Regions from separate parts of the Homo sapiens genome. Here region 2 is linked to region 1. The links come from fine-mapping of genetic effects on gene expression. A gene starts in region 1. The other region holds a variant in brackets. All regions are shown on one strand. Distances are from middle to middle.

What was found. PIP is the estimated chance that this variant, and not a neighbour inherited with it, causes the effect.
Region 2: its variant is the best candidate, but not a certain one, in a credible set for the expression of TPD52L2 in whole blood (TOPMed, PIP 0.53).

The regions. Positions count from the first base shown.
Region 1 is chr20:63,862,816-63,867,196 of GRCh38, reverse strand. It overlaps TPD52L2 (TPD52 like 2), which reads right to left and starts at 1,927. Exons shown (of 7, transcript NM_003288.4): 1 at 1,813-1,927. The coding sequence starts at 1,831. It overlaps ABHD16B-AS1 (ABHD16B antisense RNA 1), which reads left to right and starts at 2,124. Exons shown (of 2, transcript NR_165314.1): 1 at 2,124-2,373; 2 at 2,927-4,381. ABHD16B (abhydrolase domain containing 16B) reads right to left here. Exons shown (of 1, transcript NM_080622.4): 1 at 4,209-4,381. The coding sequence ends at 4,247. RefSeq lists enhancers at 476-1,195, 1,917-2,637, 1,677-2,876, 2,970-3,199 and a silencer at 2,460-2,509.
Region 2 is chr20:63,631,045-63,635,425 of GRCh38, reverse strand. No RefSeq gene overlaps it. Among named protein-coding and RNA genes, the nearest start is that of MHENCR, 6.0 kb to the right of the region's middle. RefSeq lists a cis regulatory region at 3,776 and an enhancer at 3,692-3,861. The variant C/A (reference allele first, on the strand shown) is at 2,454.

The sequences.
Region 1 (4,381 bases):
AGATCACCTGAGGTCAGAAGTTCGAGACCAGCTTGACCAACATGGAGAAACCTCCATCTCTACTAAAAATACAAAATTAGCCGGGCATGGTGGCGCACGCCTGTAATGCCAGCTACACGGGAGGCTGAGGCAGGAGAATCGCTTGAACCCAGAAGGCAGAGGTTGCGGGAAGCCATGATCGCGCCATTGTACTGCAGCGTGGGCAACAAGAGCGAAAATCCGTCTCAAAAAAAAAAAAAAAAGTAGAAAGACCAATTAACCTGGCATGGTGCGCCTGTAGTCTTATAGTCCCAGCTACCTGGGAGGCTGACGCAGGAAGATCGCTTGAGCCCAGGAGTTGAAGATTGCAGTAAGCTATGATTGCACCACTGCACTCCAGCCTGGGAGACAGAGGGAGACGCTGTCCCCAAAAAAAAAATTAAAAAAAAAAAAAAAAAAGGCCAGGCGCGGTGGCTCACGCCTGTAATCCCAGCACTTTGGGAGGCCGAGGTAAGCAGATCACGAGGTCAGGGTATCAAGACCGTCATGGCTAACAGTGAAACCCCGTCTCTACTAAAGATACAAAAAATTAGCCGGGCATGATGGCGGGCGCCTGTAGTCCCAGCTAGTTGGGAGGCTGAAGCAGGAGAATGGCAGTGAACCCGGGAGGCGGAGCTTGCAGTGAGCCGAGATCTAGCCACTGCGCTCCAGCCTGGGCGACAGAGTGAGACTCCATCTCAAAAAAACAAAAACAAACAAACAAAAAACACCCTCCAGAATAATGCAGCACCTAGGAATTATAAAGCTTAATATGTAGCCGGGCACAGTGGCTCACGCCTGTAATCCCAGCACTTTGGGAGGCTGAGGCGGGCGGATCACAAGGTCAAGAGATCGAGACCATCCTGGGCAACATGGTGAAACCCTGCCTCTACTAAAAATACAAAAATTAGCTGGGCCTGGTGGCGCGTGCCTGTAGTCCCAGCTACTCAGGAGGCTGAGGCAGCAGAATCGCTTGAACCCGGGAGGTCGAGGTTGCAATGAGCTGAGATCGCGCCACTGCACTCCAGCCTGGCGTCAGAGCAAGACTCCGTCTCAAAAAAATAAAGAAAGAAAGAAAGAAAGAAAGAAATTTAGCATCCCTCTCTAGAGCCCCAAAATGCAAGGCAGACTTTTATCATCTTCTCAAGATTTTAATCTCCTGGGCTCGCTCCACGCCCCTCAGTGGCCATCTCATACTGCTCTGGGGAGACTGTTCTGGAAACAGGCCTGGTATGCTGGGTGTGCCCCTGACTCACTCCACCCCCTCTCCATGAGGCAACCCCTAAGCAGGCTGAGCTCCGAGCAGAGTTGCTGCCCAAGGGGAGCTCTGCTGAACGCGAAGACCCCTTCTCTGCTCGGGAGCCGCCCTCAACACCTCGGACTGGGTCCAGGGCCAGACAGCGTGAACCCGAGGGCCCCGCGCAGGGACCGGGGGGTGGCAGAGCAAGCAAGAGCAGGGCACGGGGTGGGCGGCATAAGCGAGACCTGCTGGGAGCGACAGAACCCAAACTACGGGAGCAACGGCGGGCGCCAGGGAACCACACCTCGGAACGGTCCCAGGGGAGACCAGGAGGGCGGCTGGAGAGAGCCCAGGAAGCGGTCTGGGCCGCGGGCAAAAAACACACCACGACCATCATAAGCTTCGAGGTCAGTGGCCCCGGGAGCTGAAGAGGGGCCGCGGGGTGGGTGAACCGAGACCGAGAGGACAGAGAGTCGCAGACGCGACCCCGGGAGACGGAGAACAACGGGCAGCCTGGGCCCATCTGCGGCGAAGGGGCCGGGCCCGGCAGGTACCTTGGCCGGCGGAGTCCATGTTCGGGCGGCGTCCGGACCGCTGTCGCGGGCGCTATGGGAGCCGAGCGGGCGGCGCCGGGAGAAGCTCGCCGCGTACACACTAGCCAGCGGAACTGCCTCAGCTCCGCGGCGTTTCGTAATCCGCGATGCGACGGCTACTTCCGCCCGGGCACGTGCTCCGCCTTCTTCCCGCCCCCACCAGTGATATCCAATGAGAGTGCCGCTTGGCCCGTCCTGGTTTACCCGACTCAACCTGATAGGCCGAAACTGCGGGCGAACCAGGAAAGGGAGGCGTGGTTCGGCGGGAATCCATTCCAGGTTGACTCCACCAGCGAGAATCACAGGTAGAACGGTCAGAGTAGCGGGAGGACTGGGAAGGTGGGAAGTGGGAGGACCGTCCAACATGGCGCTGTGGAAAGCCAGCGCAGGGCCCCAGGGGATCTTCCGGGGCGGATGCAGCTGCCTAGGAGTGCTGGGGCTCGCGCGCCTCGGCGGCTCAAACTCTGACCCCTTGAGATCCTTTCCAGCCCGACCCCTTACTTTAGGGGTCAGCCTGCCCCCGTAAGTCCTGTTATTTATTGTATTTATATTCTTTTTTTAGTTGGTCCTTTTTTGTTTGTTTTTGAGACGGAGTTTCACTCTTGTTGCCCAGGCTGGAGTGCCATGGCGCGATCTCAGCTCACTCCAATCTCTGCCCTCCGGGTTCAAGCGATTCTCCAGCCTCAGCCTCCCGAGTAGCTGGAATTACAGGCGCGCGCCAACACGTCCGGCTAATTTTCGTATTTGTAGTAGAGACGGGGGTTTCGCCACCTTGGCCAGGCTGGTCTAGAACTCCTGACCTTAGGTGATCCACCCGCCTCGGCCTCCTAAAGTGCTGGGATTACAGGCGTGAGCCACCGCCCCTCACGCCTGGCTAGTTTGTCCTTTTCATGGGGACTTTTTATTGTACGCGGGTTACTCTGAAAAAGATCGCGATTCGTCCCCTCGCCCTGCAGGCGCCGCTGCCGCCTCGCCTCGGGCGTGGACCCTGCGGCTCGGGCCTGCGCGTGTGCACCCCGAGGTTGTCTCACTTCCTGTTCAGGGCGACCAGCGCTGCGCCCTCCCCACTCCACAGATGAGGAAGCTGAGGTTAAAGTCACTTGCCCCAGGTCACTCCGCAAGTTGAAGCGCAACCAGGATACTCTGGAACAGGATGCCTGACTTCAGAGGAGAGGCGCGTAACCACCAGGCAACTGGCCCCACGAAAACAAGTCCCGCAACTTCCCTTCTTTGGCTCCTACTTGCTCCCGGAAGAAAAGCCTTAAACGGTATTCAAGCCCTTTAGGATCTGATGTCCTAGGACTCCACTCTGGGCTTCCAGCCTGGGGTGGTACTGGTCCCTAGGCATGGAAGCTCCTCCCACTGCCCCTTCCTTCACCCGGCCACCTCCTCCCACAGGTGTCTTCCTGGTACTCTTGCACAGGCCCGAGTCCCTTACCACCACGGCCTTAGCCTGCTCTCGTGCTCTCAGTAATGTTTTCTCCATTTGCTGCCTTTCATTCTTTCCAGAGATTCTTGCTCAACCCAACCAGGCCAGCCCGGGGACTAGGGACATGTAGGGACAATAGTCCCTGCTTCAGGCAGTTCAGGGCAGACCACAGAGATGTGACATTACAGACCATTGTGAGCAGAGGCCTTGTCCCATTCTGTGTTGCATCCCTAAGCCAGGAACAAAGTCCAGCCCAGGCCTGGCTCCAGGGGACACGCAGTAGTATCCTCTGGCCTGTGCAAGTGTATCTGTAGCCTCACATGCCACCATGTGAGTCTGCAATCTGTCTGTGAATGCCCTGGTGTAGAAGCCAGGAGTTTGGAGGTGGGAGGGAGCCCTACAGAATGATAGCCAGTGCTAACTCCTGGGAATGTCCAGCCACTAAGACCTGCCCACAGCCCTGCCATGCCAATGTCCTCCTTTTCACGGGAGCAGCTTGCACAGACTTTCAGCGCACAGCTGGCATTGTCTTCCCAGGAGCCATCCTGTAACCCAGGCCAGGTGAAGGGCTCCTCCCTGGGACCCCACAGCCCCGTTCCCATCATCCTTTTGTGGTGATCAAGGCACCCATCACACAGTATTGCCATAAACCGGGTCAGGTTAACCTTTCATTCCCTTAGGAGCTGGGTGGGGGCAGCCAAAAGTATTTGTAGGAGGAAGAGAGAAAGGAGGGGACAGAGCTAGGAAGAATGGGAGGACGGTCAGAACGCCCCTGTGAAGGAAGGAGAGCACCAAGTCCCCGTGTTCTGCCTACCCTCCCCCAGACAGCAGATCAGGAGCACCCCGCGCGCCCCCCCCCGCCCCGCCCCGCGTCGGCGCCGGCCCCCTGCAATGGTTGGCGGTATGGGGAGGTGAACCAAGAAGGCCAGGAGTTCAAGTGCGTGATCCCCCACTGGGGCATATAGGTTACAGCCGCCAGGGCAACTGAAACTCCTCAGGCTCCAGAGGGCTGAAGTGAGTCGCCTCCACGTTCTTGAGGTGCTTCCGAGCCAGGAACAGTGCGAGGCGCCGGCGCCGCCGCGAGCTCAGGCCCTGGCCCAC
Region 2 (4,381 bases), 230 kb after region 1:
ACAAATGAAGCGGCTTAAAACAACAGAAACTCAGCCGGGTGCAGTGGCTCATACTTGTGATCCCAGCACTTTGGGAGGCCGAGGCAGGAGCATTGCTTGAGCCCAGGAGTTTGAGACCAGTCTGGGCAACATGGTGAAACCCCATCTCTACAAAAAATACAAATATTAGCCAGGCGTGGTGGTGCTCGTTTGCAGTCCCAGCTACTCTGGAGGCTGAGGTGGGAGGATCGCTTAAGCCCAGGAGTTCAAGACTGTAGTGAGCCATGATTGTGCCACCCAGCCTGGGAGACAGAGCAGGGCCCTGTCTCAACAAACAACAAACAATAAACTTGTATTTCTAGTCACCAAAATGTTGTGTGTATAGCATAGTTTATTATATTCAAAACACTTTCAAATTTTTTTAATCTTCATAATGTCTACTCTGGGAAAAACAGGATAAACATTGTTACACTAACCTTTTTTTCTGGTTGCAAATGTAAGACATGGTCATTGCATCACTGCAAAACACAAGGACAAGAGGCCAGGTGCAGCGGCTCATACCTCTAATCCCAGCAAGGCCTCCCACCTTTGGGAGGCCGAGGTGGGCGGGTCGCCTGAGGTCACGAGTTTGAGACCAGTCTGGGCAACATGGTGAAACCCCATCTCTACTAAAAATACAAAAATTATCTGGACGTGGTGGCGCACACCTGTAGTCCAGCGACTTGGGACGTTGAGGCAGGAGAATCGCTTGAACCTGGGAGGCGGAGGTTGCAGTGAGCTGAGATTGAACCACTGCACTCCAGCCTGGGTGACAGAGCAAGACCCCATCTCAAAAAAAAAAAAAAAAAGTTATTTGTTAATATCACCGTCAAGCTCATCAGAAAGTACTGGGAAGCCTTTCACAATGGCAAAATTCTTTTTTTTTTCTTGGCCCGGGCACAATGGCAAAATTGTTATTCTTACTTCAAAGCTCAAATTTTATCACTGGTAACAAATGCTGTCAGTTGCTTTCCTTAAAGTGTATGGGTTTTTTTTTTTTTTTTTTTTTTGAGACGGAGCTCGCTCTGTCGCCCAGGCTGGAGTGCGGTGGCGCGATCTGGGCTCACTGCAAGCTCCGCCTCCCGGGTTCACGCCATTCTCCTGCCTCAGCCTCCCGAGTAGCTGGGACTACAGGCGCGCGCCACCACGCCCGGCTAATTTTTGTATTTTTAGTAGAGATGGGGTTTCACCGTGTTAGCCAGGATGGTCTCGATCTCCTGACCTCGTGATCCGCCCGTCTCGGCCTCCCAAAGTGCTGGGATGACAGGCGTGAGCCACCGCGCCCGGCCGGGTTTTTGTTTTTTCTTTCACTCCCCTGACATAAAATATTTGGTATTTTTCTATACCAGCAACCAATTCTCCAACCGCTAACTGGGTGTCCAATATAATACAGGTAAATTCTGACACTGCCTTCCTGGAGGGTGTGTCAGATCCTACAAATTACAAGGGCTCAATCCTAACCGACTGCCCACACTTCAGACCCCGGGAGCCAGTCCAGAGCCACTTATATTTATGACCACTGGGCTTTCTAAATCAGGGGTTCTCACAACCTGCTCTTCAGGTTAGATGATTTACTAGAATGTCTCACAGAACTCAAGAAAATTTGTATGTTTGTCAGTTCATTATAAACGAACAGCCAAGTGGAAGAGATATTCAGCCATCCCCGTTAAAGTGGAAGTAGACCTGAGTAAACTTTTATCCAGTATTGGACAATATCCTCTAAGGCGTGAAGCAATGAAAAGAATCAGACCCATAACAAGAGTGTATCTGCTTTCGGGATCTAGGAGTGCTACAATTAAATAAAAAATGAGAGTATTTTTAAACAAAGATTAATTTTAAAAAGAAAGAAAGGCTGGGCCTGGTGGCTTATGCCTGAAATCCCAACACTTTGGGAGGCCGAGGTGGGTGGATCACCTGAGGTCAGGAGTTCAAGACCAGCCTGACCAACTTGGTGAAACCCTGTCTCTACTAAAAATACAAAAATAAGTCAGGCCTGGTGGCGGGCATGTGTAATCCCAGCTACTCAGAAGGCTGAGCCAGGAAAATCACTTGAACCCAGGAGGTGGAGGTTGCAGTGAGCCAAGATCGCGCCATTGCACTCCAGCCTGGGTGACGAGAGTGAAACTCTGTCTCAAAGAAAAGCAAAAAAAGAGAAAAGGGTATAATGATCCCTTGCACAAGCCCATGTATTATAGTACTGCGATCCTTCCCATAAGGAAACCAAATGGGAGGATCTGGCATTTTGTACAAGACCCCAGAGCTATCGACAACATTGTGATTCCACGACATGGGTGCTACCAAAGCCTCCCACTCTGGCAGCCACCGTCCCTGCAGAAGCGAGGTATTGACTGTGGCTGATATATGCAGTGCTTTCTCCAGTAGACACAGAGTCGGCTCGTTTTCTTTTACATGACAGGACCAGCAGTATACCTCAA[C/A]CATCATGCCCTAAGGACACACCAAGGGTCCCACCTATGTTTCTTTTTTTGCTTTGAGATGGAGTCTCACTCTGTCACCCAGGCTGGATGGAGTGTGGTGGCGTGATCTCAGCTCATCGCAACCTCCACCTCCCCGGTTGAAGAGATTCTCCTGCCTCAGCTTCCCAAGTAGCTGAGACTACATGTACACACCCAGCTAACTTTTGTATTTTTAGTAGAGATGGGGTTTCACCATGTTGGCCAGGCTGTTCTTGCACTCCTGACCTCAGGTGATCTGCCCATCTCGGCCTCCCAAAGTGTTGGGATTACAGGCGTGAGCCACTGTGCCCGGCCTGCAGGCAACACTTTTTTCTCTTTTTATTTATTTATTTTTTGAGACAGAGTCTCACTCTGTTGCCCAGGCTAGAGTGCAGTGGCACAATTTCAGCTCACTGCAAACTCCTCCTACCAGGTTCAAGCGATCCTCCCAGCTAGGTCTCCCAAGTAGCTGGGATTTCAGGTTGCACCACCATGCCCAGCTAATATTTGTATTTTTACTAGAGACGGGGTTTCACCATGTTGGCCAGGCTGGTCTCTAACTCCTGGCCTCAAGTGATCCTTCCACCTTGGCCTCTCAAAAGGCTGAAATTATAGCCACTGTTCCTAGCTCAGCATTTTCCACCTGGTGGATGTCCAAGTTTCTGAAAAATAACTCAAGAACATATGTTAAGCTGTTATATTTTAGTTTCCACAGGGAATCAAAACACCTTGTGACTCTGACTTACTTGGGAGACTATTGTTTTTTTGTTTTTTTTTTTTTTCTTTGAGACAGAGTCTCGCTCTGTTGCCCAGGCTGGAGTGCAGTGGTGCGATCTCAGCTCCCTACAACCTCCGCCTCCCAGGTTCAAGCGATTCTCCTGCCTCAGCCTGCCACGTAGCTGGGATTACAGGTGTGAGCCACCACACCCAGCTAATTTTTTTTTTTTTTTGAGATGGAGTCTCGAGGCTCTGTCGCCCAGGCTGGAGTGCAGAGGCGCGATATCAGCTCACTGAAAGCTCCGCCTCCTGGGTTCACGCCATTCTCCTGCCTCAGCCTCCCGAGTAGCTGGGACTACAGGCACCCACCACCACGCCCGGCTAATTTTTTGTATTTTTAGTAGAGACGGGGTTTCACCATGTTAGCCAGGATGGTCTTGATCTCTTGACCTTGTGATCCACCCGCCTCGGCCTCCCAAAGTGCTCAGATTACAGGCGTGAGCCACTGCCCCCGGCCGGGAGACTATTGTTTAAGCTGTTTCTATCTTCTTCCTCATCAGATTGTTCCTTTGCCTGTCAAGGGTGGCGAGGTGCCTGGAATTTCCCTTAGAGGAACTCAGGACTCAAGATTCTTTTGTTTTGTTTTGAGACAGTCTTGCTCTGTCGCCCAGGCTGAAGTGCAGTGGCATGATCTTGGCTCGCTGCAACCTCAGCCTCCTGGGTTTACATGATTCTCCTGCCTCAGTCTCCCAAGTAGCTGAGATTACAGGCGCCCGTCACCATGCCTGGCTAATTTTTTTGTATTTTTAGTAGAGACGGGGTTTCACCATTTAGCCAGGCTCGTTTTGAACTCCTGACCTCAACGAATCTGCCCGCCTCGGCCTCCCAAAGTGCTGAGATTACAGGTGTGAGCCACTGTGCCTGGACCTTTTTTTACCTTTGGAGACAGACTCTCGCTCTGTTGCCCAGGCTGAGTGCAGTGGCACAATAACAGCTCACTTCAGCCTTGACCTCCTGGTCTCAAGTGATCCTCCCACGTCAGCCTCCTGAGTAGCTGGGACTACAGGCATGTGCCGCCACACCTGGCTAACTTTTTAGCTTTTGCGGAGATGGGGTCTTGCTATATTGTCCAGGCTGGTCTCAAACTCCTGGACTCAAGCGATCCTCTTGCCTTGGACTTCCAAAGTGCTGAG